Linked DNA regions of Homo sapiens. Changing the gene in region 6 together with the main gene of any one other region gives a genetic interaction. Each region holds a gene or a part of one and is shown on either strand. Other genes may lie near its edges. The genes, in order: AAAS, LMNB1, SCAF8, PHF2, LMNA, ELOF1 and OR52W1.

Region 1 (4,089 bases), on a different chromosome or scaffold from region 6:
CCCACCTGGTGTCCCCACACACACCTGCTGGCATTATACACACGGACTGAGTCATCTAGCAGGGCCACTGCAAACTTGTTGGTGTGGGGGTGCCATGCAAAGACACGCAAGCAGCAGCTGGACCTAAGGAAGGGGTTAACATGAAGAGTTCCTGCACCTATCCCTACCCTAGCCCAGAAGCTCACATTCATTTCCAGTAAGGACATGGTTTTTTCCTACTTTTTCTTGTATTCTTTTTTGGGGGAACAGGAGGAATGAGAATATGGTGAGCAATCAGAAAAGGAGTAGGAGTCTTTGCCTTCTCCCCAAAGGGAGTTTTGAGGTTCAGGACTTCCTTTCCACAAAGCTCCAGGGCTTGTGCACTCACCAATTTGTGACTTGGGCAAATTCAGCGATCAGATCTTCGCTCCTGAGCTGTAAGAACAAGATAGACACAGGACACACTGGGGCAAAAGGAGTCCATCTCCTCAATATTCCAACAGGGGAGCTGGACCACTCCTACCCTCTGAAGTCATCACACCCAACCCTGACCTGCAAGGATAGGAATGAGGGCAGAGTAGGATGGGGACACAGCAAATGCAGAGGGCTGGGGAGGAAGCCAAACTTACAGACAGATGGGGGAACAGGGACCCATGGAGGGAAGAGGCCCATCGACAGAGTGCCAGGGCCCAGCCGGATGCCGTCTTCACCCACTCAAACACTGTAGGGTTGAGGAAGCAGCTCTGATTAAACCATTCACAGGCCTCTTACCAGGTACCTTCTAGGTGAAAGACAAGGAAGGACAGGCACTCCCCAGGTCCTTCTGCCCAGTAAGTGCTCTCAACACCACACTCTGGACACCCACTCTGGACACCCACTCTGGGTTATTTGGGTAGGTAGAGGAGAGGACAGGAAAAATAGGGCTAAAAGAGGCTGAGCCAACAGGTGTCGGGGGTGAGTTCAAGAATATGGAGAGGAGATAACCACAAAACTAGGGAAGGCTGGAGGGAAAAATACTTACCCTCTTCTTCTGAGTTTGCAATTTCATTTAGCACCCCAAAAAGGCCCACATCACGCCTGATAAGGGAGGAAAATGTGGGTCAGCTTACTCTGATCCCCTCTGTCCCTCTCTACCAGTTTCATTCATTCAATATACATGTATTAAAAATATGGGCACTCACATTTAATGAGTGCCAACTATGTACCAGGCACTCTACGGGCTGTCCTTTCATTTACATATCTCACAAATCTGAACGAGATTCTACCCATTTACGGATGAGACAACCAAGGCTCAGAGGACTTTTGGGGCTTTGTGAGCAGGTTAAGGAGTTGGGACTTGCTCTAAGACAATGAATGGAAAGCCATGGAAGGGTTCTAAGGAGAAGAATAAACAGATCACACAGCAGCATTTTAGAAAGAGCAGTCTGGCTGCAGATTAGAGAGTGATAAGAATAGAAAAGGCCAGGCTGGCTGTGGTGGCTCACGCCTATAATCCCAGCACTTTGGGAGGCTGAGGTGGGTGGATCACGAGGTCAGGAAACTGAGACCATCCTGGCCAACATGGTAAAACCCCGTCTCTACTAAAAATGCAGAAATTAGCCAGGTGTGGTGGTGCGTACCTGTAGTCCCAGCTACTCAGGAGGCTGAGGCAGGGCAGGAGAATCACTTGAACCCAGGAAGCGGAGGCTGCAGTAAGCCGAGATTGTGCCACTGCACTCCAGCCTGGGCGACAGAGTGAGACTCTGCCTCAAAAAAGAAGAAAAAAAAAAAAGAATAGAAAAGGCCAGGCGCGGTGGCTCACACCTGTAATCACAGCACTTTGGGAGGCCAAGGTGGGCGGATCACGAGGTCAGGAGATCAAGACCATCCTGGCCAACATGGTGAAACATGTTGAAAAATATGAAAATTAGCCAGGTGTGGTGGTCCATGCCTATAATCCCAGCTACTCCATAGGCTGAGGCAGGAGAATCGCCTGAACCCGGGAGGTGGCGATTGCAGTGAGCCAACATCGTGCCACCACACTCCAGCCTGGGCAACAGAGCAAGACTCCATCTCAGACAAAAAAAAAAAAAAAAAAAAAGAAGAGAAAAAATAGAAAAAGTCCAGGTGCAGTGGCTCAACCCTAGCACTTTGGGAGGCCAAGGCAGGTGGATCGCCTGAGCTCAAGAGCTTGAGACCAGCCTAGGCAACATAGGGAAATGCTGTCTCTACAAAAAAAAATACAAAACTTAGGCAGGTGTGGTGGCACATGCCTGTAGTCCCAGCTACTTGGGAGGCTGAGGAAGGAGCATCACTTGAGCCCTGGGGGCTGACAATGCAGTGAGCCGTGTTCCATGTTTGCGCCACTGCACTCCACACTGGGCAACAGAGCAAGATGCTGTCTCAAAAAATAATAATAATAATAGAGAAAAATAAATCAGTTAAGAATCTACTTCAGGGCCGGGTGCGGTGGCTCACACCTGTAATCCCAGCACGCTGGGAGGCCAAGGCAGGTGGATCACGAGGTCAGGAGTTCGAGACCAGCCTGGTCAAGATGGTGAAACCTCATCTCTATTAAAAATACAAAAATTGGCCAGGTGCGGTGGCTCACACCTGTAATCCCAGCACTTTGGGAGGCTGAGGCGGGCGGATCACAAGGTCAAGAGATCAAGACCATCCTGGCTAACACGGTGAAACCCCATCTCTACTAAAAATACAAAAAATTAGCCAGGTGTGGTGGTGGGCGCCTGTAGTCCCAGCTACTCGGGAGGCTGAGGCACGAGAATGGAGTGAACTCGGGAGGCGAAGCTTGCAGTGAGCCGAGATCGTGCCACTGCACTCCAGCCTGGGCAACAGAGCGAGACTCCGTCTCAAAAAAAAAAAACCAAAAAAATAAAACAAAACAAAAATTAACCAGGCGTGGTGGTGTGCACCTGTAGTCCCAGCTACTCAGAGGCTGAGGCAGAAGAATTGCTTGAACCCAGGAGGCGGAGGTTGCAGCGAGCTGAGATCACGCCACTGCACTCCAGCCTGGGTGACAAAGTGAGACTCTGTCTCAAAAAAAAAAAAAGAATCTACTTCAGGAACCTAGGAAAAAGGTGAAAGTGGCCTGAACTGGTGGGGATGAAGAAAAAGAGACAGATTTGAGAGATTTAGGAATTAGCATAAACAAGATGTGAAGACTAATCAGACATTAGTAAAGGAAAGAGCAATACAACAGAAACACCTAGGTAATAATTACATCAGCTAATATGCTTACAATGTGCCAGCTCTGGACTAGGTGCCTCACATTAACTAATCAAGCCATTATGACAATCCTACAAGATAGGTATTGTTATCACTGCATTTATTTTTATTTTATTGAGACAGGGTCTTGCTCTGTGACCCAGGCTGGAGTGCAATATCACCATCACGGCTCGCTGCAGCCTCAATCTCCTGAGCTCAGGTATTCTTGCCTCGGCCTCCCGAGGAGCTGAGACTACGGGTGCACACCATCATGCCCAGCTAATTTTTAAATTTTTTGTAGAGATGGGGTTTCAGTGTGTGTGTGTGTGTGTGTGCGTGTGTGTGTGTGTGTGTGTGTGTGTGTTAAGACGGAGTCTCACTCTGTCACCCAGGCTGGAGTGCAGTGGTGTGAACTCGGCTCACTGCAACCTCTACCTCCTGGGTGCAAGCAATTCTTGCACCTCAGCCTCCTGAGTAATTAGGATTACACACGGAGTTTCACCACATTGGCCAGGCTGGTCTCGAACTCCTGACCTCAAGTGATACACCCGCCTTGGCCTCCCAAAGTGCTGGGATTACAGGCATGAGCTTCCGCGCCCAGACTATCACTGCATTTTTAGATGAGAGAACAAAGGTGTGAAGAGGCTAATTAATATGAACAAGGTAATCTAAGTAGAAAGTAGCAGTCAGGATTCAACCATCTATCTACCCCAGAACCTATACTCAAACCACTTTTTCCTGAATGAGTAATATGATCATTCCTTAAAGTGAACCATCCAGAGAAGCAGATTTGGAGAGAGAAATAAAGAGACTGGATTTGAGCATGCTGAATATATGAAGTCTGCGAAATATTCAAGCAGGATAATTTGGCAAACACGTGAACACCAGGTCTGATGCATCAACTGG
Region 2 (4,089 bases), on a different chromosome or scaffold from region 6:
AGTGAGACTCTGTCTCCAAAAAAAGGGATGAATAATAGTAATAATAATAAACAGAAATGCTGTCTCTTTTTTTTTTCTTTTTTGAGACAGTCTTGCTGTGACACTGGAGTGCAGTGGCGTGATCTCGGCTCACTGCAACCTCAATGCAAGCCATTCTTCTGCCTCAGCCTCCTGAGTAGCTGGGATTACAGGCACGTGCCATCATGGCCAGCTAATTTTTGTATTTTTAGTAGAGACGGGGTTTCACCATGTTGGTCAGGCTGGTCTCTAACTCCTGACCTCGGGTGATCTGCCTGCCTTGGCCTCCCAAAGTGCTGGGATTACAGGTGTGAGCCACTGCGCCTGGCAAGAAATGCTGTCTCTTAAGCAAAGAAAAGGTCCCTCTCCCCCGCATTTGGTGATTTTAAGTGTGTTTTTTAACTTAAACTACTATTGTTTTTAGGAGGTTGCTCAAAGAAGTACAGTCTTTAAAACAACCATACCTGAAGAAGAGGAGGAGGAGGAAGAAGCAGCTGGAGTGGTTGTTGAGGAAGAACTTTTCCACCAGCAGGTATTACTTTATTTATTTAATATATTTATTTCAAATTTTATTCACAGAATTACATGAAGACCAAGAGTGTGGTTGGGTTTTTCCCCTATCAGTTGATGAACCAGCGCAGTTATCTACCAAGTGGGGTTTGTACTCCCCAAAGGGATATTCAAGGTGATACTTTAGGGTACTGGAAGAATATGTTGGCACTTTTATTTTTATTTTTTCTCATTGTACCAAGTTTCAGTTTTGTCCTTTGTTTTCTAATGTGCATTATGTGTTACAGTAAAACATGTCTATGGATTGGATGTTTACTCCAAACTTGTTTACTCTGTAGGGTCCTATGATTAAAAGGTTTAGATCACTAATTTAGAGCAAGAATCTGCATATAAACTTTAAAAAAACAAAGTAATATTCAACTTCAGTGTGAAACAAAATTCTTGCTGTATTAAGTTCCTAATCATTATCTAATTGAAGATAGATTTTGGCTGATGGTTGGGCTTTTGAGAGCCCTTGAAATAAAGAAACTCCAAATTTGGTTTTAATTATAATTAAATTGGAATTATTAATAACTAATGAGCCTTCAGTTTATATTCTCAAGCTGTTTGAGTCCGATCATTAATCAAAGTGTCTACCCTTATCCTGATAAGACTTTGTTTCCATGGCTCCAGATTTTTAGTCTTAAGTCTGCTTTGCTTCATTAGCCCTAGTCCTGGTCTAAATAAACACTGTCTCATATATTTAACCCCCAGGGTTGAGAACCACTTGAGGTGGGTTGCATGAAGTAGCATGAATTTTTTACCTGGATGCCTTCTCATACATTTTGGAGGAATATTTTAAAACACATATGTTACACTTAACTTACAAGAAACAAGCACAAGTTCCATTTTCTGTGCTTCAATGGGAACCATCGTAATTACTAGAAGTAAAATAATTATGTAAGAGATAACTCAAGGCACCAGACAAGAGGGTCAGCATGAGTTATATAGCATGTCAGATGCTAGAGGAGGTACTCCAGGCCAGCAGAGTAGTTGAGAAGAACTCTGTGAGGTGATGCTTGTCCACTAATTTGAAGGATGGGTGATTATTTGGTTATTGGAGAGAAGGCAGATGATGGTGCTCTGAGGATGTTGGAATTCACCATTGCTTCACTAACAGACCACCCCAAAGCTTAGTGGCTTAAAACAGTGATTTCTTACTTCCCATAATTCTGTGGTTTGACTGGGCTCAGCTGGGCAGTGTTTCTGTTCCACATGCTGCAGACTGAACTCAATCGAGCAGGCTGTGTTCAGCTCAGAGGTTGGCCTCGGCTGGAATATCTTTTAGGTCTCTTTCTGTGTGGATTTCTATGATTTAAGAGTTTAGTCAAAGCTTTATAGCATGGCAATTGTCTAACAGAGTAAGTGGAGGGTACAGGTTTCTTTCTTTTTTCTTTTTTTTTTTTGAGATAGAGTCTTGCTGTGTCGCCAGGCTGGAGCGCAGTGGCGCAATCTCAGCTCACCGCAACCTCCACCTCCCAGGTTCAAGAGATACCCCTGCCTCAGTCTCCCAAGTAGCTGGGATTACAGGCATGCGCCACCACGCCTGGCTAATTTTTTATATTGTAGTAGAGATGGAGTTTCACCATGTTGGCCACGACAATCTCAATCTCAAGAGAGTACCAGGTTTCTTAAAGGGCCCTTTGTAACATTCTCTTAGTCAAAGTCATGAGGCCAGTCCAGATTCAAAGTGGGGGTAAATAGTCTCCACCTGTTGGTGGGAGGAATGGCAAAGAATTCATGGTGATCTTTAACTCACTACAGAGGATGTGTAAAGAATGTGGCCGGGCACGGTGGCTTACGCCTGTAATCCCAGCAGTTTGGGAGGCAGGCAGATCACAAGGTCAGGAGATCGAGACCATCCTGGCTAACACGGTGAAACCCCGTCTCTACTAAAAATACAAAAAATTAGCCGGGCGTGGTGGCGGGAGCCTGTAGTCCCAGCTACTCGGGAGGCTGAGGCAGGAGAATGGCGTGAACCCGGGAGGCGGAGCTTGCAGTGAGCTGAGATGGCGCCACTGCACTCCAGCTTGGGTGACAGAGTGAGACTCTGCCTCATAAAAAAAGACTTAATGCACCAACTATATCCGCTCATCCAGTTATTTTGTAGGGTTCATGTGAGAGTTAAATGAAGTTGAAAGATTGGAATTAAACTGACATAGTCTGGAATGCTTAGGGATGTAGCTTCTGTACAATTTGGAACAAAGGAGAAGTTAAGACTGCATTTTAAAATATCACTGGCCAAGCTGAATCAGAGGGACTAACTCTAGAGAGGAGATTCCAGAGGCAGTGAGGGAATATATAATGGAAATTTATTAAGGCTTAGTGACTAAACTTGAGGGTGAGAGAAGAAAAAAAATAAAGATGTATGAGGTTTTTAGCTTTTGTGATCACAGAAACTAATGATACCAAGGTTCATAAGAGGGAAGATGGAAGGGCAGAACAGGCGTTTGAACTTCATATTTGAGGATGAATCCAATCGCCTTTTGAATTGATTAGAAATATTTTGGTGACCTTCAAAAAACCAGTTTTAGTTCAATCAGTGGTGAGTCACAAGTCATATTGTGAGGTTATATGAAATTAATGAGTGATAAAGAAATGGGTAGAGGAGCCATGTTGACTTCACCTTGGAGGACAAATCCACTGCAGATGGCTTGGGATGTGTAAGTTCAGGATCTAGCAAGCTGTAGTCTCCGATGTGGTTGTTAAAAGCTGATCCACTGATCTCCTATTTCCTAAGTTATCAAAAGAGGTTATTGAACAATGGTTTTCAAATTGAGCTGCACATTAGAATTACTTTAAAATTATATATAGATAGCTACCCTTTCCCAGTAAAATGAGAAATTCTTATTTGATTGATCAAGGGACCTAGATCAGAATTTGTTTTAAACTCCTCAGGATCTGAATGTGTAGCCAGAGTTGACAATTACTGTTCTGGAATTTGTTGGGGGGTATTCTAGAAAGAAGTCCATAAAAGAAGGTTAGAGGCCAGATACGGTGGCTCACGCCTGTAATCCCAGCACTTTGGGAGGCCAAGGGCAGGTGGATCACTTGAGGCCAGGAGTTCAAGACCAGCCTGGCTAACGTGGTGGTGATGCACACCTGTAGTCGCAGCTGCTCGGGAGGCTGAGGCATGAGAATCGCTTGAACCCAGGAGGTAGAGGTTGCAGTGAGCCAAGATTGCACCACTGCACTCCAGCCTGGGCAACAGAGTGAGACTCTATCTCAAACAAACAAAGAAAAAGAAAAAAAGAAAAGGTTAGAAAAGATGAGAGATGATAAAGGGTCCATTTGAGGTTAGGTAATATGGTTTGGTATCCCTGTAGTTAAAAGTTTTTGTCTTATTTTAGAATACTGTGATCTATTTCTTTAGTATTAATTTTTCCTTCTGTTTTCCTCATCAGGGAACCCCAAGAGCATCCAATAGAAGCTGTGCAATTATGTAAAATTTTCAACTGTCTTCCTCAAAATAAAGAAGTATGGTAATCTTTACCTGTATACAGTGCAGAGCCTTCTCAGAAG
Region 3 (4,089 bases), on a different chromosome or scaffold from region 6:
TAAAGGCTTTTTATGTGGTCTAGCTATTTAGTGTTAGACTATATTAGACTTAGAAGCTGCTGGCCAAAACAGTCTAAGTAATAATCCAATAAATCAGTATCTACTTTCCTATAAAAAGTACAAATTTTAAAAATATGAACACCACTTCCAAGTAGTATGATATTCCCATAATTAATAAGCATACTAAGAATATCACACACTAAATTGTACATGAAAGATTTTAAGTTTTAGAAACACTTTAATTATTAATAATTTAGGCATCAACTTATTATAGTTACAGTATAGTGACTAGTTGTAGAGAAGTTTCCTTTAAACATTTTACATATTGATTAAAGAATTTTAATTTTTGCAGGTCCAAATTACAGAACCCAGAGCATCACAGTAAAATGTGGCACCCATGAAAGAAATCAGACAAGCTCAGAAAGTAATCACTTGCCTCAGTGGTGAATACAAGATTTTACTGACTAGTTATTTTTAGTCAAATGAAAATATTTTAAATGTTTCAAAAATGTTTCAAAAAAAATTTTTTTTTTTTGAGTCAAGAGTCTTTCTCTGTCACCCAGGCTGGAGAACAGTTGCTCAATCTTGGCTCACTGCAACCTCTACCTCCCAGGTACAAGCAATTCTCCTTCCTCAGCCTCCCCAGTAGCTGGGATTACAGGCACGCATCATCTGGCTAATTTTTGTATTTTTAATAGAGATGGGGTTTCACCATGTTTGCCAGGCTGGTCTCAAACTCCTGGCCTTAAGTGATCTGCCTGCCTTGCGCTCCCCCAAAGTGCTGGGGATTATAGGTGTGAGCCACTGTGCCTGGCCTAGGAAAAATTTTTTTAATTACTTAATTTTTTTCAGAAGTTTGAACCTTTTGTAAAATTCAGACTGTCTTATACAGTGTACAGGAGATACTGAAAGTCTACAATAAAATTTATTTATAGAATTAAAATCCATGATAGTATATAATATTTAATAATTCATATAGACTTGATCCGATATTTTAATTTCTACCTTGTTAAAGGAGACTCCCTGTTCTAAGGGAGTAAGAGTGTTGGCAGCTGCAGCTGCAGCTGTAAGTTGTGCCGTAAGAGCTTGCAACTGAACAACAAGACCAGCATCTAGGGCCTGCAGAATGGAAGGCTGGGGCTTCTGTTGTTGTATCTGTAAGGTTTGTATTAATTGTTGAAGCTGGAGAGAAAAAAATATATATTACAAAACAGGTGTTGGGTTTTTTCTGTAAGAGTGGCCACCTAAAACTTTTAGTCAGTAAAATTAATCATTCCACACTCTCTTTGAAAAAAATACACACTATTAATAAGTTAATTTTTTGAAGTTTTTCTGTGTACCTTATATAACACAGTCCTTAATAAGTTTGTCTTACTTCTGGAAAGTCAGCGAACTTTAAACAAAATAAAGTGATCTGTGACAACCAGATAAAGCGCTCATCACAAGCTGACACCTTTTTCACTAAATTTCTCTACCTTGTTCAATTAACTCTTTAAACTCAGTAAAAGGACGAGTACTGAAAATAGCAGCAGCTTTTGCTGTTATTCAGAATTACCATCTGAGCACGTACTTCCTGAAAGTTGGAGAGTCATTAAGAAATCTGTTTCTCAGAGTAGAGTCTGGCAACTAGTTATTAATAATAGTGTCATCTAGAGTTGAAGGCAACTCTTGTTCCCACCATGTACCCACCCCTGTTAAAAAACAGACACAACAGTGAGATCTTTAAGAGATTCTATAAATAAGAAAACCCTATATACATTCCAGAAATAAATGATAATCAATCTGGTTATAAGCCTGAGTTAAATCCAAAAATTATTAGTTTAAAAGAGAAAAATAAAGACAGCAAAGCTACTGATAACCAAGACAACTGTACTCTTGAAGTTCAACTTCTAGGATGAAAGGACACAAAAACTATGTAAGATGACAGTAAAGTAATTTCATGCCTACTTAAAACAGTAACACTAGGAAACAAACTAGAGTCACTTCACTATCAACTAAACATTTTCTATAAAACTATTAAAATGATAGAAACACCGTATTTCCCCTTTACACTTTTTAACTGCTCCTTTTGACATCTCCATTTTTCCCATGGCACTGTTATTCTTTTGGTCACCCAGGTAAAAAACCACTGGAGCATCCAATTTTCTTCCTCTACTCTGACTTCGCAGTCTATCAATTACTGTCTTACTGACTCTGTTTGTACTATCCCTTTCAAAGTTTCTTCTGTCAAAAATATTTATTTTAATAGGCATCTTTTAAAATAAGAACACTTGCTTTATGAATTGTTTCCAAAATATTACCACAAAATAAAATTACTAATTCTATAATTTCACCTAATATACAGCTAATATTCAGTTTCCCAACTGTCTCAAAAATGTAGAAAATAGATTCAACCTAAGAGTACACATCGGTTTTTTAAAATATTTTTAAGTCTAGAATGGCCCCATGTTTTCTATTGTATTTTCAGAAAGTATACAACCTTACTATTTTTCATAATCATTACCCTCCTTTCCAAAACCACTACTACCAAAAGAAAGATATTCTGTCTCTAGACTTCTCCTCTCTCTAATCCATGTAAAGTACTGTTAAGATCATGTGACTTCAACATTAAAAAGTCCCTGGTGATTCCCCATTGCTTAGCAAATGAAACCTTTTATTTCTGAGCCCACCATTTATAGTTTTCACAGCCCAGGTCACACTTAAGTCTGCCATTTAACTTTGTCATTAATAGCTTACACAGACTATCTTTTCCTTCAAACAACTCAACTCTACAATATCCTTTGTATCTCCAACACTGTAATGCTTTTGTACATCATTCATTCATTCCACAAAAACATATTGAACACCATCTACAACCTAGACATTGGACAGGCAGCTGTCAACAACCACAAAAAATTCTTGCCCTAGTTTAGCATACATTCCAGTGGGAAGAGGTAGAAAAAAAACCAAGTAATTATATAACATAACAGAAGGTAGTAAGTGCTAAGGAAGGAAGTAAGCAGAGGCGAGAGAGAACGGGAGTGTAAACAATGACAGGTAAGAGTTTACAGTTTTAAATAGCAGTCACGGCCAGGTGCGGTGGCTCATGTCTATAATCCCAGTACTTTGGAAGGCCGAGGCGGGCGGATCACTTAAAGTCAGGAGTTTGAGACCAGCCTGGCCAACAAGGTGAAACCTTGTCTCTACTAAAAAATACAAAAATTAGCTGGGTGTGGTAGCAGAAGCCTGTAATCCCAGCTACTCAGGAGGCTGAGGCAAGAGAATTGCTTGAACCCGGGAGGCCAAGGTTGCAATGAGCCGAGATTGCGCCAATTACACTCCAGCCTGGGTGACAGAGCAAGACCCTGTCTCTAAATAAATAAATAAATAAATAAATAGCAGTCACTGAAGGCCTTATTAAAGTGACATTTAAACAAAGACAAGAGATGAAACCATATGAATATATGAGGGAAGTGGGTTTTCAGTATAAAAAACTTCAAAAGCAGAGATCTTGGGGCAGGATTATAGGTAGTTTATTTAAGAAACAACAAAAAGGATGGAACAAGTTACAGGAGAAAGAGGTGAGAAAGCAAAGCAAAGGATAATATAAAACCAGGGTTGGGGGTGGGCAACATAAGCAAGTCTTATCATTAGTTAGAGAAGTCTATGAACTGGTGATAGAAAATGTTGGGAAGGGAACAATAGGTCAAACTGAGAACATACAAGGACCAATGAAGTGACTGCTGAAACTTGGGATTTTAGTGCAGGCACGATGGCTTGTGCCTGTAATTCCATTGACTTGGGAGGCGCAGGTGAAAGGACTGCTTGAGGCCAGGAGTCTGAGACCAGCCTGGGCAACATAGTGACATCCTGTCTCTATATAAAAATAAAAAATTGGCCAGGCACGGTGGCTCATGCCTGTAATTCCAGCACTTTGGGAGGCTGACGTGGGGGGATCGCCTGAGGTCAGGAGTTTGACAACAGCCTGGCAAACAAGGTGAAACCCCGTATCTACTAAAAATACAAAAATTAGCTCGGCGTGGTGGCGGGTGCCTGTAATCTCAGCTACTCGGGAGGCTGAGGCAGGAGAATCACTCCGGGAGGCGGAGG
Region 4 (4,089 bases), on a different chromosome or scaffold from region 6:
TAAGGCAGTGGGTGTGATGCAGTATGTATGGTGTGTGTGATGTCGGTTATGCGCGAGGTCACCCCTCCCATCCAGGCACTCACATACCCGAGGAGTTTCTTGTTGGAGAAAGAAAAAGAGAACTTATTGTCTTTGTTTCCAGCTAGAGGCGACTTCTCTAGCTTCTGCTCCTCTTCCATCTTCAGTAAGGAGTCAGGTTTGCTGTTCTGAAAAGCAAGACCAGGGCCGTCCCTGAGCCCCACACAGAAGTGGGGGGTCAGGACCCCAATTAGTGTCAGTGAGAAGAGGCAGCTACTGGGAACACGACTAAGGAAAGTCACCCATAGCTCTGGTGGCCACCCGGGCCACTGCGGGGTGCTCAGGGGCCTGCACCCCATGGACTCAGTGCCTCGATGTTGCCTGACCCCCATGGAGTGGGAATGAAAACCAGTGTGTGGACCGTGAAGGGAAACACTGTCAACATACAGGGTGTACATTCAACCTCTTGCATCCCAACCAACTCAGAGGAAGATGTAGTCCATGGGTGGTCACACACACCTCAGACCCACGTAAGCACACCCCACAGCACTACCTACTCAGGACAAGCAGACACATGTCTGCACATTCCTTCACACACACAGGGCCTCACAGATTCACCTCTGCTCACACTCACCAAGCTGACACACACACGTGTGCATGCATATGTGCACTTCTCACCTTGTACTTCCACTTGGCCTCTGACTTGCTCTTGGTTTGCTCTCGAATTTCCAGCCTCTCCACATCATTCTGCATGTGAACCACATCTTTGTTGGGCACACTCAGGACACTCTTTGTGGCCTAGAAAAAAGGGCTGCTGTGACCCAGAGGCAGACATAGAGGGCTGGTGGAACTCTCTTGAGCCACAGATTCCCTGTCTTCTTCTGGCCCATGTGCTTGCAGCTCAAGCCTCCATCCATCTACCCATCCACGCATCCATTCACCCACCCATCGATGTACCCATTCACCCACCCATCCATCCATCCATTTATTCATTCATTCGTTCATCCATCCATCCGTTCATTCATCTGCCAACCCATTCATCCATTCATTCATCCCGTTCATTCATCCACCAATCCATCCATCCACTCACCCATTCGTTCATTCATCCATCCATGCACCATGCATTTGTTCATCCATCCATCCATCCATCCATCCATCCATCCATCCATCCGCCCACCCATCCATCCATTCGTTCATCCCATTCATCCACCCACCCATTCATCCATCCACTCATCCATTTATTTATCCATCTACCCATCCATTTATCCATCCATCCATTTTTTCATCTATCCTTCCATCCATCCATCCACTCATCCATTTATCCATCTCCCCATCCACTCATCCATTCATCCATCCATCCATTTGTTCATTCATTAATTCATCCACCCATCCACTCACTCAATCATCCACCCATTCATCCATCTACCCATCCATTCATTTATCCATCGATCAGTCCATTCACCCACCTATCCACCCATCCATTTGTTCATCTATCCATCCATGTATCTGCTCACCCATTCATTCATCCATCCATCTATTCATTCCTCTGTCTATCCATCCATCCATCCATCCATTCATTCATCCATTTATTCATCCACCCACCCATTTGTTCATCCATCCATTCATCCACCCAACCATCCATCCACTCATCCATCCACTCACCATTTGTTGATTCATTCATCATCTACCCATCCATCCATTCATTTATCCACCCATCCATTTGTTTGTTCATCCACCTTTCCATCCATTCATCTATCCATTTATTCATCCATCCATCCATTTTTTCATTCATCTATCCATCTACCCATCCATTCCATCCATCCATCCATTTGCTCATCCATCCATCCATTTATTCATCAATCCATCCATCCACCCAACCATCCAACCATTCTTTCATCTATCCACCCATGCATCCATTCATCTATCCATCTACCCATCCATCTTATGCACTCATCCATCCATCTACCCACTCATCCATCCATCCCTTCATTATTCCATCCATCCATCCATTCATCCATTCATCTACCCATTCATTCATTATTCCATTCATCTACCCACCCATTCATTTATTCGTCCTTCCATCCATCCATCCACCCATTCACCCATCCATCCATTTATTCATCCATCCATCCACCCATCCATCAATTCGTTCATGTAGCCATCTATTCATTCATCTATTCATCCATTCGTTAATCCATTCAACCATCCATCTATCCAGCCATTCACTGATTCATTCATTCATCCATCCGTCTGTTCATCCATTCATCCATCCATTCATCCACCTATTCATTCATTCACCCATTCATCCAGCCATTTAGCCATCCATTCATTTGCTCATGCATTCATTCATGCTTGCCCTGAGAAAGAGAACACAAAAGCGTCCCACTACACCCCTGTGATGCCGGCCCTGAAGTTTCCTGGCCCCCAGGAAGCAGATAACGACCTCCTCCTGGCAGAAACTCACACTCAATGGTGCTTCAGGGGTTCATGGTCCCTGAAGCCCAGACCTAAGATCCTCTAGTCAGAGTGGGTCTTCAGGGCTGGGCCCATCTCTTCACTGTCCACAGGGGCTCAGACTATCAGGGCCACCCTGCTCTTGTCCTCACCCCTGAACCCCCTCCCCTCCAATGGCATTCTCCCTGTTGTTTCTGCACAGACACCTCATCTACCTTCAGGTTTCAACCTCAATGTCTTGGCCCCAGGGAGGACCCAGGGCTTCTTTGTCCCCTGGCAACTGCTCATCTGGCTAGGAAACCTAAACTAGACATCCCCTTCTGGAAAACCACCATGCCTCCTCCACCAGGTGGCCCTCTTGGGTGCCACCTCTGCCACAGCACACACACATTGTGTTGCCTTCCTCAGTGAGGGACCCTCTTCAGGCCCACTGCTCTGTGGCTTGTTGGGCAAAGCCTGTCCACTCTGGGGGGTCTGGGCCTGGATGCTGCAGGACTGGGTCAGGACCAGGCAAGGAAGTGCATCTTCTGGGCATACAAGCCCACAGCAAGAGCCCAGACCCCCACATCTTCTCAGGGGCCCCTGGGGAACAAGGACAATGGGCCCTAGCTATCTCCATGGGACTGGCCCACAAGAGATGCTGCAGCACCTCTGGTGATAAGGTGGGGAGTCAGGGTGAGGGGGTCCCACCTTGCCCTTCTTGGGCGGCTCCATCTTGGTCAGTGCCTCCTTGGTGTGGGCTTCGAGCAGGTCCAGGTTGGGGATGGTGGGTGAGGCTGACTCCCGGGACTTCTTCCCTTTCTTCTTGCCTCCATCTTTGAGCTTCAGCGTTTTGGGGGGCCTTGGGGGCTTAGGGGGCTTCGGGGGCTTGGGGATTTTGGATGGCTTGGGCATCTTCACAGTTTTGGGAGTCTTTTTTTTGGACACTTTCTCCAGGAGGGATTGAGGCGGGGTGGCCTCAATGGGAGACGGGGGCTCCTCCTTCTCCCGGTCCCCGTCACACACCTCATCTGACGAGGCGACAGTATTCACTTCCGGTCGGACGGCTTTGGAGGCATTCTGGGATACAGAAAGGAGAGGGTCACATGCTGCTTCTGCCAAACTGTGGCCCAAGACGGTCCACACACCAGGATGCTGGAGACACTCAGTGCCAGGCTGGCGGGGAACTATCAGCCCAGAAAGGCTCAGCTACCCCACACCATCATGTGACACACTCACACCCAACCCATGCTATTGTGTGACACACTCACACCTGCGACATGCCATGAGTCACTTGCTCTCCCCAAGGCTCTTCTGTCCTACCCCAGCACAGCGGCTGAGGGCTCATCCAGGAACACACAAGCTGGGACTGCAGGGGCTGAGTCAGGGGCTCCTCCCACAGAGTGCCCTCCCCATGGGAGTTTCAGAGAGGCTGGTGCCATTTCTCAGTCCCTACACACTCACACCAGGACACAGACCCAGCCAGAGACCTAGGACCCTGAGCCCTCACAAAGGCAAGCTTGCCCAGGAAAGTGCAAGGAGGACCATCTGGGGCACTGGCCTTCCCAGACCTGGCAGCTCTGTGTTAGGCTGGCCCCTGGACCCAGAGAAAGACAGGTGGGCCCTCCCCAATCCCCA
Region 5 (3,500 bases), on a different chromosome or scaffold from region 6:
GAGAGGAACAGCAACCTGGTGGGGGCTGCCCACGAGGAGCTGCAGCAGTCGCGCATCCGCATCGACAGCCTCTCTGCCCAGCTCAGCCAGCTCCAGAAGCAGGTGATACCCCACCTCACCCCTCTCTCCAGGGGCCTAGAGTCTGGGCCGGATGCAGGCTGGAAGCCCAGGGTTGGGGGTGGGGGTGGGGGTGGGAGGTTCCTGAGGAGGAGAGGGATGAAAAGTGTCCCCACAACCACAGAGAAGGGTCGCAGGATGTGGAGTCAGATGGCCTGTGTGCTGTTTCTGTACACTCTTACCTCACCTTCACTTCTCAGGGCTTTGGTTTTCCCATTCGAAAATGGAGGCTGTTCTTAATCTCCCTAACTCAGAGTTGCCACAGGACTCTGCAATGTGAGGTGTTAAAAGCATCAGTATTTTTCTAGTTGGCTGTGCTATTTGTGACAGGAGAAAAAGTCTAGCCTCAGAACGAGAGGTTTCAGTTAGACAAGGGGAAGGACTTCCCAGTTGCCAGCCAAGACTATGTTTAGAGCTTGTGATGTTCAGAGCTGGCTCTGATGAGGGCTCTGGGGAAGCTCTGATTGCAGATCCTGGAGAGAGTAGCCAGGTGTCTCCTACACCGACCCACGTCCCTCCTTCCCCATACTTAGGGCCCTTGGGAGCTCACCAAACCCTCCCACCCCCCTTCAGCTGGCAGCCAAGGAGGCGAAGCTTCGAGACCTGGAGGACTCACTGGCCCGTGAGCGGGACACCAGCCGGCGGCTGCTGGCGGAAAAGGAGCGGGAGATGGCCGAGATGCGGGCAAGGATGCAGCAGCAGCTGGACGAGTACCAGGAGCTTCTGGACATCAAGCTGGCCCTGGACATGGAGATCCACGCCTACCGCAAGCTCTTGGAGGGCGAGGAGGAGAGGTGGGCTGGGGAGACGTCGGGGAGGTGCTGGCAGTGTCCTCTGGCCGGCAACTGGCCTTGACTAGACCCCCACTTGGTCTCCCTCTCCCCAGGCTACGCCTGTCCCCCAGCCCTACCTCGCAGCGCAGCCGTGGCCGTGCTTCCTCTCACTCATCCCAGACACAGGGTGGGGGCAGCGTCACCAAAAAGCGCAAACTGGAGTCCACTGAGAGCCGCAGCAGCTTCTCACAGCACGCACGCACTAGCGGGCGCGTGGCCGTGGAGGAGGTGGATGAGGAGGGCAAGTTTGTCCGGCTGCGCAACAAGTCCAATGAGGTAGGCTCCTGCTCAGGGTCTAAGGGGATACAGCTGCATCAGGGAGAGAGTGGCAAGACAGAAGGATGGCATGTGGAGAGAGGAACATCCTTGCCCTCAGAGGGTGGACCAGGGTGAGCCTGTATATCTCCTCCACACTCTGGTTCCAGGCCTGGCTCCTGGACTCTTTGGCTGTGAGACCTTGAGCAGGTTATTTAACCTCTCAGAGCATCAGTTTCCTCATCTGTAAAATGGGGATGAATACTGATCCCTAAGTCTTTGAGTTGTCAGGAAGATGAAAGATAAGGTATCCGTGTGCCTGGTGCTGCGTATGTGTCCACAGATCATGGCTATTATCCCCGGGGGAAGGGCAGTGACAGGGGTGTGTGTAGATGGAAGGAGAGGCCTCAATTGCAGGCAGGCAGAGGGCTGGGCCTTTGAGCAAGATACACCCAAGAGCCTGGGTGAGCCTCCCCGACCTTCCTCTTCCCTATCTTCCCGGCAGGACCAGTCCATGGGCAATTGGCAGATCAAGCGCCAGAATGGAGATGATCCCTTGCTGACTTACCGGTTCCCACCAAAGTTCACCCTGAAGGCTGGGCAGGTGGTGACGGTGAGTGGCAGGGCGCTTGGGACTCTGGGGAGGCCTTGGGTGGCGATGGGAGCGCTGGGGTAAGTGTCCTTTTCTCCTCTCCAGATCTGGGCTGCAGGAGCTGGGGCCACCCACAGCCCCCCTACCGACCTGGTGTGGAAGGCACAGAACACCTGGGGCTGCGGGAACAGCCTGCGTACGGCTCTCATCAACTCCACTGGGGAAGTAAGTAGGCCTGGGCCTGGCTGCTTGCTGGACGAGGCTCCCCCTGATGGCCAACATCGGAGCCAGCTGCCCCCAACCCAAGTTTGCCAATTCAGGGCCCCTTTCTAGAGCTCTCTGTTGCAGGCTCCAGACTTCTCCACCCAGTAGGCAAACCAAAAGATGCTTCCTCAACAGCACAAGGGGTGGAAGTTAGACAGTGAGGATTGTTAAAGGCAGAGCCATACTCCTACCCGGAGAGCTTGACAGTGTCCCTCTGGGGTGGAAATGAGTTCCTTAGCTCCATCACCACAGAGGACAGAGTAAGCAGCAGGCCGGACAAAGGGCAGGCCACAAGAAAAGTTGCAGGTGGTCACTGGGGTAGACATGCTGTACAACCCTTCCCTGGCCCTGACCCTTGGACCTGGTTCCATGTCCCCACCAGGAAGTGGCCATGCGCAAGCTGGTGCGCTCAGTGACTGTGGTTGAGGACGACGAGGATGAGGATGGAGATGACCTGCTCCATCACCACCACGTGAGTGGTAGCCGCCGCTGAGGCCGAGCCTGCACTGGGGCCACCCAGCCAGGCCTGGGGGCAGCCTCTCCCCAGCCTCCCCGTGCCAAAAATCTTTTCATTAAAGAATGTTTTGGAACTTTACTCGCTGGCCTGGCCTTTCTTCTCTCTCCTCCCTATACCTTGAACAGGGAACCCAGGTGTCTGGGTGCCCTACTCTGGTAAGGAAGGGAGTGGGAACTTTCTGATGCCATGGAATATTCCTGTGGGAGCAGTGGACAAGGGTCTGGATTTGTCTTCTGGGAAAGGGAGGGGAGGACAGACGTGGGGCATGCCCGCCCTGCCTCTCTCCCCCATTCTTGTTGCATGCATATCCTCTCATTTCCCTCATTTTTCCTGCAAGAATGTTCTCTCTCATTCCTGACCGCCCCTCCACTCCAATTAATAGTGCATGCCTGCTGCCCTACAAGCTTGCTCCCGTTCTCTCTTCTTTTCCTCTTAAGCTCAGAGTAGCTAGAACAGAGTCAGAGTCACTGCTCTGGTTCTCTGTCCCCAAGTCTTCCTGAGCCTTCTCCCCTTTTATGTCTTCCCTCTCCTCCTCCGGGCCCCTAGCCTCCCAAACCCCCATTGCCCGCTGGCTCCTTGGGCACAGAACCACACCTTCCTGCCTGGCGGCTGGGAGCCTGCAGGAGCCTGGAGCCTGGTTGGGCCTGAGTGGTCAGTCCCAGACTCGCCGTCCCGCCTGAGCCTTGTCTCCCTTCCCAGGGCTCCCACTGCAGCAGCTCGGGGGACCCCGCTGAGTACAACCTGCGCTCGCGCACCGTGCTGTGCGGGACCTGCGGGCAGCCTGCCGACAAGGCATCTGCCAGCGGCTCAGGAGCCCAGGTGGGCGGACCCATCTCCTCTGGCTCTTCTGCCTCCAGTGTCACGGTCACTCGCAGCTACCGCAGTGTGGGGGGCAGTGGGGGTGGCAGCTTCGGGGACAATC
Region 6 (4,621 bases):
AGGGATATCTAGGAACAGATGTCCAGGAGGCAGGTGGGTGGGGAAACGGCAGCAGTTACCACTGAGCCCAACTCCCCTGCGAGGCACGGTGCTCAGGGCACTGTGTTTGCCATCCCTGAGCCTCCTATGGCGCCTCCTCCAACACACACACACACGACTGCTGGTTCTAGCATCGTTCCACTGTGACGGGGAGGTCAGCAGCCTGCCAGTGTCTTCCAGAATAAACAGTGGAGTTTCATTCATTATCTGCTGATCACTTCCTATGTAATACCCCCAACTCTTTCTTTTTTTTTTGAGATGGAGTCTTGCTCTGCCGCCCAGGCTGGAGTGCAGTGGCATGATCTCGACCCACTGCAACCTCCACCTCCCGGCTTCAAATGATTCTCCTGCCTCAGCCTCCCGAGTAGCTGGGAGTACAGGCATGCACTACCACGCGTGGCTAATTTTTTGTATTTTTAGTAGAGATGGGGTTTCACCGTGTTAGCCAGGATGGTCTCGATCTCCTGACCTCGTGATCCGCCTGTCTCGGCCTCCCAAAGTGCTGGGATTACAGGCGTGAGCCACCACGCCCAGCCAACACCCCCAACTCTTAACTGTGATGCTTCCAGTTCACTGAGTAAATAGAAGCAATCCAAAGACAGCTCCTAGGACCAACTCATTCAGCCATTCACCCACCCTCTTTATTTATCTAAGAGATGAGGTCTTGCTCTGTTGCCCAGGCTGGAGTGCAGTGGCATGATCACAGCTTGCTAAAGCCTCAATCCTCTGGCCTCAGCCTGCTCAGTAGCTGGGACAACAGGTGTGCACCACCATGCCCAGCTTCGGCATGCCTCCTTTACTATGGAAGTAAGTTCCTGCAAAAACAATTTGTTCATTCTGCCCTGGCTCCCATCCCCTTTTCTTTGAGCAACATCAAATTTTCCAGCTCCACTGGATCACTCTCACACACTTGTTATTACCTCTCTCCTCATTTAAAAAGGGGGAAAAAAAAACTCTTCATCCTCTTCCAGCTATGATCCTTTTCTCTGCAGGCTGTTTTAGTGTACAGCCATCTGCATTCCCACCCATCTCTCTGCACCCCTTGCCTCCAAACTTAGGTTACTGGTGGCTCCATACTGCAAATCCCAATGGCAGTCCTCCCATTCCAGAGGTCCTTCCTCCCCTGAGAGCACATGTGGCTCTCAGGATGCCATGTGCTCCCTGTCCTCTGCCTCACTGGTGGCTCCTGCTAGTCTCCTATGCTCCTGCCTCTCTGCCAACTTGCTCCAATGAAGAGAGCACGTGAGTTTGGGCCAGGCGCTGTGGCTCACGTTTATAATCCCAGCACTTTGGGAGGCCAAGGTGGGCAGATCACTTGAGGTTAGGAGTTGGAGACCAGCCTGGCCAACATGGTGAAACCCCATTTCTACTAAAAATACAAAAATTAGCTGGGCGTGGTGGCACATGCCTGTAATCCCAGCTAATAGAGAGGCTGAGGCAGGAGAATCGCTTGAACCTGGGAGTCGGAGGTTTCAGTGAGCTGAGATTGTGCCACCGCACTCCAGCCTGGGCAACAGAGCAAAACTTCATCTAAAAAAAAAAAAAAAAAAGGCTGAGTGCAGTGGTTCACGCCTGTAATCCCAGCACTTTGGGAGGCCGAGGTGGGCAGATCACGAGGTCAGGAGTTCGAGACCAGCCTGACCAACATGGTGAAACCCCATCTCTACTAAAAATACAAAAATTAGCCAGGCATGGTGGTGCACGCCTGTAATCCCAGCTACTCGGGAGGCTGAGGCAGGAGAATCACTTGAACCTGGGAGGCGGAGGTTGCAGTGAGCCGAGGCACTCCAGCCTGGGCAACAGAGCAAAAAGCCCATGAGTTTAATTGTTGGATCCTCTCCTTTCTGGCTATACTCACCACATGAAGATTTCACCCAGTCTTAGGGCTTCATGCCTACTCTACACTGAGGCCACCTGCTTCTCCAGCCTTGAGTCTGAACTGCAGACTCTGATCTATCTGCCTCAGCCACACCTCCACCTGATGTCTAACTTCCACCTAAGATTAAACATATCATGTCCAAAACCAAGCCCCTGACATTGCAACCTGCTCTTCCAGTCTTCCTCATCTCAGCTAACAGCAATTCCATCTTTCCGGATAATCAAATCAGAAACCTTGGATTCATCCTCAATGTCTTTTTCCCTCACACATTCCTTATGCGATCCTCCCCCTGCCCCTCTACCTCTGAAATATAAATTAGCCGCGGCACCACGCCCAGCTAATTTTTGTATTTTTTGTAGAGACAGGGACCCACCATGTTGCCCAGCCTGGTCTGGAACTCCTGGGCTCAAGAGATACTCCCGCCTCGGCCTCCCAAAGTGCTGGCGTTACAAGCATGAGCCACCGTGCCCAGCAATAACCATTACTGAATAAATCACTCAATCAGTTTGCTTGTAACTCTATCACTTTGGGACGTCACGCCCGTAATCTCATCACTTTGGGAGGCCCAGGTGGGAAGATCGCTTGAAGCCAGGAGTTCCAGACCAGCCTGGGAAACAGAGTGAGACCCTTCATCTCTACAAAATTACAAAAATTAGCCTTGAGTCTGTAGTCCCAGCTACTCGGCAAGCTGAAGTGGGAAGCTTGCGCCCAGGAGGTCGAGGCTGCAATGAGCTATGATCGCGCCACTGCACTCCAGCCTCGGCGACACAGCAAGACTCACTCTCAAAAAAAAAAAAAAAAGTCCAAACAAAATCTACGGATGAGCCCCAGAAGCTCATTTTGCCCAGGGACTACAGTCTCCCCATCCCATGAATGGGGTCTGGCTTGCACAAGGAATGCAGAGGCCTCAGCCTGTCCTGTGACAACGTTAAGTCCAAGAGCGCCAAAAGGGGATGGCAGAGGAGTCATCCCCCGAATCTGCTGGTACCCAAGAGGTGGGGGGTTGGCTGTTCCTCCAGACTCACTAAAGCTTCGGCATCGCCTCCCGACGGCCGCCGGGAGGAGCCAGGCGTCCCGGTAGTCGCGCTTGGAAGGATGGGGTCGGGGGGAGTCAGTCTCCCCGACCGGCTTTCCCCCAAGCTCGAGGTCCCAGGAGCCTCCTCCAGGACCCCGTAAACGCACGGAGTAGAGGAACTTCCAGTCCTGCCCACCCCCAACGCCCACTCGCACGAGCCGCACCAGCACTCACCTTCTCCAGCTGCGAAAGCTCCGTTCACCCGGGAGATAGTGACTTCCGACTCCTGCCGGAAGCGGAAACCCCTCTCCTACTTTCAGGTCCCGGCCACCCCCATCCCGGACAGCCCAGCAAATAGGCCCTGCCTCCTTCGCCGCTCCTCTGAGCGCACGCGTACTCAAATAGCAGCGCTCCGACGGAGACGCAGTGCGCCTGCGCAAGAGCCGGTGCGTATTTGCCTGTACCTACGCGCGATGCCAGTACTTCTGGTCAGTTTCCAGGAGCGGCAAGTGAGGAATATGAAATAACCTTATGGCTGAATCAGGGTGAAGGGGAAGCTTGTAAGCATGGAAGACGCTCTACTCAAACTAAAAAGTTCAAGTTCTGATCCAGCAGATGAAGAGGGAGGCCTGAGAGGCTGCTGTTCTAACTCGCTCCCAGGTGACTTCCATGCTGCTGATCCGCAGACCACATTTTGAGTGCCCAGATTGTAGTAGATGAGGTTGAGTGGACAGGCTGGGGCCAGATTCCATGGAGCCTCGTGGGCCGTGTTAAGGATTTTTATTTTTTATTTTTGTTTTATTTTATTTTATTTTTTTGAGACGGAGTCTCACTTTGTCGCCCAGGCTGGAGTGCAGTGGCTCGATTTCGGCCCACTGCAACCTCCGCCTCCCAGGTTCAAGTGATTCTCCTACCTCAGCCTCCCGAGTAGCTGGGATTACAGGCGCCGGTCACCGCGCCCGGCTAATTTTTGTAGTTTTTTTTTTTTTTTTTTTTTTGAGTAGGGATGGGGTCTCACCATCTTGGCCAGGCTGGTCTTGAACTCCTGACCTCGTGATCCACCCGCCTCGGCCTCCCAAAGTGCTGGGATTACAGGCGCGATCCACCCGCCTCGGTCTCCCAAAGTGCTGGGATTACAGGCGTGAGCCACCGCGCCCGGCCAAGGACTTTTATTGGTTTTTATTTTTGGTTTTGTTTTTTTCTGAGACAGGGTTTCGCTCCGTCGCCCAGGCTGGAGTGCAGTGACGCCATATGGGCTCACTGCAACCTTAGCCTCCCGGGTTCAAGCGATCCTCCTGCCTCAGCCTCTTAAGTAGCTGTGATTACAGGTGCGCACTACCATGCCTGGCTAATTTTTGTATTTTTAGTAGAGATGGGGTTTCACCATGTTGGTCAGGCTGGTCTCGAACTCCTGACCTCAAGTGATCCATCCACCTCGGCCTCTCAAATTGTTGGGATTACAGGCATGAGCCACCACACCTGGCCTGAAAAAGATATTTCAAGATGGAGAGAGAGAGGGGTTAGCTGTGTCACGTGTCCCTGAGTTGAAGAAGATGAGGAAAGAGAATTGACAGTTGAGTTTGGCAAGGGTCTGGTCCCTGCGGACCTTGATAAGAGCTGTTGCATTAGAGTGTTCAGGAAGATAATTTGTAATGAAATGTATTTCGAATACAGATGCTCTTTGATTT
Region 7 (3,271 bases), on a different chromosome or scaffold from region 6:
CTCTTTTTGTCTCGTGGGGAATTGAGAGACAAGAAATTACAACAGAGTGGGCTAGATGCTATTAAAGAATAAACCAAGGAATTTTCTCCCGGACTTCAGTGAGCCAGCAAAGACCTCCCTGAGAAAGTGTTCCTTGCCCAGATCTTTCCACCTGATAGTCTCTTTCCTGGCTTGCCCCCATCTCTGCCTCCTTACTCTACTTCCTGAGTCACCAGCCCATCAGCACTGAGCAAAGAGATACAAAACAGAGTTAATGTGGCACAGGTGGGAGGGAGAAAGGCCCTGAGGGAAGCAGGTAGAACAGCCACATAAAGAGCCCCACAGGCACTGATTAAAGCGAAGAGAAGCTGCCAACACACAGTGCTCGAGATCTTTCCCAGTCAAGCCTTCTGCTGGTGATTTCTTCCTCATTCATTTATCCATTCAACATGTATTAAGCTTCTTAGGTGGGCTGGATCCCACCTAAGTCAATCTACTTGTCCTGCCTCCTCCAATGTCAGAGATGCTTCTTCCTCAGATGGCTGCTACTCTGAGTTGAGTGCCATTTTCTCCCTCTATGTCACCTCCACTCGCTCTGGCATGCCAGGAATGAGACTCTAGTGGGACCCACTTTTGTACCGTGAAGAAGGAAAGGAAACGGAGAAGAAAAGTCCCGTTTCGTACTGCCATCTCTCTCTCTGTTGCTTCCCAGCCCCAACTTCAACTCTCCAGCTGGTGTTCAGCATCAAGTTCAGAACGTAAGCACCCTGCACCCCAAAAACCCAGCAAGTTTTCCCTTGCCACACCAAGCTCCCAGATTCACTCCAGATTCCATCTGCCTCCCACTACGGTTTCTCCCTTTCTTTATACTCTGCCTCCTCTCTTCCTGGATGGTTGGTGCTGAGAATGGGCAATTGCTCAGAGCTGGGCAAACCTTAATATCACTGTACCCACCAGGCCTATACAGCTGAAGAAGCTGAGGTCCAGAGATCTTGCCCAAGGATACACAGGCAGGGACAGGACAGCCGGAAGCCTGATTCCCCACCCTGCCCCCAGCACTGGCTTTCTCCTCATATAGAGACTGAGACTGACTCTATTTGGACCCTGAGGAAGAAAAGTATTCATCTCCACTCCACCCTCTGCTGACATCCAATTAGAAGGCTCTCTCAGGCTATCTATACCAACCACTGCAGCAGGCAGCCTCTTCCTCACTACCCCTTCCTCCCACTACAATACATATAGACTTTTAGGAGCAAAGGATTCTCCTATCTTAGCTAGAATTGCGACCTTAATTATCCATCCAAACCCCCCTAACCAAAAGTTATAAACCTGTGATCCTCCCAGCCCTGCACTACTCCTACACGTATGCCATGGATGGGTTTGTGCCACTGTGAGACCCCCAAAATCTCTCCCCTTATCTTCCCTGTCAGGAGTCATGCCCCCATGAGCCCTCAAGTTGTGCCCACCACAGAATGGCAGAAACTCTACAACTCAATTCCACCTTCCTACACCCAAACTTCTTCATACTGACTGGCTTTCCAGGGCTAGGAAGTGCCCAGACTTGGCTGACACTGGTCTTTGGGCCCATTTATCTGCTGGCCCTGCTGGGCAATGGAGCACTGCCGGCAGTGGTGTGGATAGACTCCACACTGCACCAGCCCATGTTTCTACTGTTGGCCATCCTGGCAGCCACAGACCTGGGCTTAGCCACATCTATAGCCCCAGGGTTGCTGGCTGTGCTGTGGCTTGGGCCCCGATCTGTGCCATATGCTGTGTGCCTGGTCCAGATGTTCTTTGTACATGCACTGACTGCCATGGAATCAGGTGTGCTTTTGGCCATGGCCTGTGATCGTGCTGCGGCAATAGGGCGTCCACTGCACTACCCTGTCCTGGTCACCAAAGCCTGTGTGGGTTATGCAGCCTTGGCCCTGGCACTGAAAGCTGTGGCTATTGTTGTACCTTTCCCACTGCTGGTGGCAAAGTTTGAGCACTTCCAAGCCAAGACCATAGGCCATACCTATTGTGCACACATGGCAGTGGTAGAACTGGTGGTGGGTAACACACAGGCCACCAACTTATATGGTCTGGCACTTTCACTGGCCATCTCAGGTATGGATATTCTGGGTATCACTGGCTCCTATGGACTCATTGCCCATGCTGTGCTGCAGCTACCTACCCGGGAGGCCCATGCCAAGGCCTTTGGTACATGTAGTTCTCACATCTGTGTCATTCTGGCCTTCTACATACCTGGTCTCTTCTCCTACCTCACACACCGCTTTGGTCATCACACTGTCCCAAAGCCTGTGCACATCCTTCTCTCCAACATCTACTTGCTGCTGCCACCTGCCCTCAACCCCCTCATCTATGGGGCCCGCACCAAGCAGATCAGAGACCGACTCCTGGAAACCTTCACATTCAGAAAAAGCCCGTTGTAATGTCCAGTGGTAACAATGGAGCCTAAGAGTGGAGGTGAGGGGACAATCGGAGGGGAGTCTGGGGGTGTGGATCATGTTATTTTCATCCCACTGCATATGACTGTTATCATCATTTAACAGGTACTTGCTGTGGAGTCCCTATGTGCAACACTGGCATCTGTAGACTTTGACTTAAACATGTATTCTGCTTGGGAGGAGGCAGGAGGTAGAGGTCAGGGGGCTACACTACCATGCAGGAAAAATTAGTGAAGGACCATAATAAACAAGATCTAACAACTCCCTTTCCTGCTCCCCACCTCCATTATTTCAACCTAAGTCTGCCCACGTTTCCACACAAAAGCTCCTCTATAGATCCCAAACTTGAGGGAAGTGCTTGGCACTGCCGCAGAGGGTGGCGCTGTCCCTGGAGTCAAGTGCTTGGGCACCCGTCTGAAATCACAGCCCTCTCTACTCCTGGAGCCAGATTCTGTTTTCAGACTGCCCTCAGGAAACGAGTTCTACAGGCTCATCTCCTGCCTTCCGATAAACTAAATAATGTGCCCTGTGGTACCAATTTGGCCACTTCAAATTCAAAGAATCCTCTTTTGGTCTCATGTGTAATTACTATTCTTCCTTCCCCCAACTCCCACCAAAGCCCCCAAAATTAACAGCTGTAACTTCTTCCCCTGTGACTGCAGCTGCAGAGGTCAGGGGTCCACTGAAAGAAATGTTGATATCCCAGAAAATCACTGCAGCCACATCATCTGATTGCCTGAGGCTGAATTACTATGGTTTCTTGTCAATCTGCCCTTCTGTGCACCCTCAACAAGAAGGTATAATCCCCAGATAAAATCCCCATAGGCACCCCCATTTGTCTT

What was found.
Region 1: changes in ELOF1 (region 6) and AAAS together harm fitness more than expected from each alone (negative genetic interaction), as found in Homo sapiens cells (one large-scale study listed by BioGRID).
Region 2: changes in ELOF1 (region 6) and LMNB1 together harm fitness more than expected from each alone (negative genetic interaction), as found in Homo sapiens cells (one large-scale study listed by BioGRID).
Region 3: changes in ELOF1 (region 6) and SCAF8 together harm fitness more than expected from each alone (negative genetic interaction), as found in Homo sapiens cells (one large-scale study listed by BioGRID).
Region 4: changes in ELOF1 (region 6) and PHF2 together harm fitness more than expected from each alone (negative genetic interaction), as found in Homo sapiens cells (one large-scale study listed by BioGRID).
Region 5: changes in ELOF1 (region 6) and LMNA together harm fitness more than expected from each alone (negative genetic interaction), as found in Homo sapiens cells (one large-scale study listed by BioGRID).
Region 7: changes in ELOF1 (region 6) and OR52W1 together harm fitness more than expected from each alone (negative genetic interaction), as found in Homo sapiens cells (one large-scale study listed by BioGRID).

Annotation. Positions count from the first base shown.
Region 1 is NC_000012.12:53,314,727-53,318,815, forward strand, and holds part of AAAS (aladin), read right to left. Parts: intron 1,057-4,089; coding exon 1,001-1,056; intron 701-1,000; coding exon 609-700; intron 415-608; coding exon 368-414; intron 124-367; coding exon 25-123; intron 1-24. UniProt on the Homo sapiens protein: Plays a role in the normal development of the peripheral and central nervous system.
Region 2 is NC_000005.10:126,832,252-126,836,340, forward strand, and holds part of LMNB1 (lamin-B1), read left to right. Parts: intron 1-442; coding exon 443-550; intron 551-3,971; coding exon 3,972-4,013; 3' UTR 4,014-4,089. UniProt on the Homo sapiens protein: Lamins are intermediate filament proteins that assemble into a filamentous meshwork, and which constitute the major components of the nuclear lamina, a fibrous layer on the nucleoplasmic side of the inner nuclear membrane.
Region 3 is NC_000006.12:154,799,064-154,803,152, reverse strand, and holds part of SCAF8 (SR-related and CTD-associated factor 8), read right to left. Parts: intron 1,183-4,089; coding exon 1,006-1,182; intron 1-1,005. UniProt on the Homo sapiens protein: Anti-terminator protein required to prevent early mRNA termination during transcription. Together with SCAF4, acts by suppressing the use of early, alternative poly(A) sites, thereby preventing the accumulation of non-functional truncated proteins.
Region 4 is NC_000009.12:93,659,634-93,663,722, reverse strand, and holds part of PHF2 (lysine-specific demethylase PHF2), read right to left. Parts: intron 3,532-4,089; coding exon 3,163-3,531; intron 817-3,162; coding exon 697-816; intron 207-696; coding exon 88-206; intron 1-87. UniProt on the Homo sapiens protein: Lysine demethylase that demethylates both histones and non-histone proteins. Enzymatically inactive by itself, and becomes active following phosphorylation by PKA: forms a complex with ARID5B and mediates demethylation of methylated ARID5B.
Region 5 is NC_000001.11:156,135,211-156,138,710, forward strand, and holds part of LMNA (lamin), read left to right. Parts: coding exon 1-102; intron 103-650; coding exon of another isoform or gene 651-690; coding exon 691-911; intron 912-1,003; coding exon 1,004-1,226; intron 1,227-1,710; coding exon 1,711-1,818; intron 1,819-1,902; coding exon 1,903-2,022; intron 2,023-2,443; coding exon 2,444-2,533; coding exon of another isoform or gene 2,534-2,554; exon of another isoform or gene 2,555-2,656; intron 2,657-3,277; coding exon 3,278-3,500.
Region 6 is NC_000019.10:11,556,024-11,560,644, forward strand, and holds the start of ELOF1 (transcription elongation factor 1 homolog), read right to left. Parts: upstream 3,208-4,621; 5' UTR 3,168-3,207; intron 1-3,167. UniProt on the Homo sapiens protein: Factor involved in transcription-coupled nucleotide excision repair (TC-NER), a mechanism that rapidly removes RNA polymerase II-blocking lesions from the transcribed strand of active genes.
Region 7 is NC_000011.10:6,197,773-6,201,043, forward strand, and holds OR52W1 (olfactory receptor 52W1), read left to right. Parts: upstream 1-1,451; coding exon 1,452-2,414; downstream 2,415-3,271. UniProt on the Homo sapiens protein: Odorant receptor.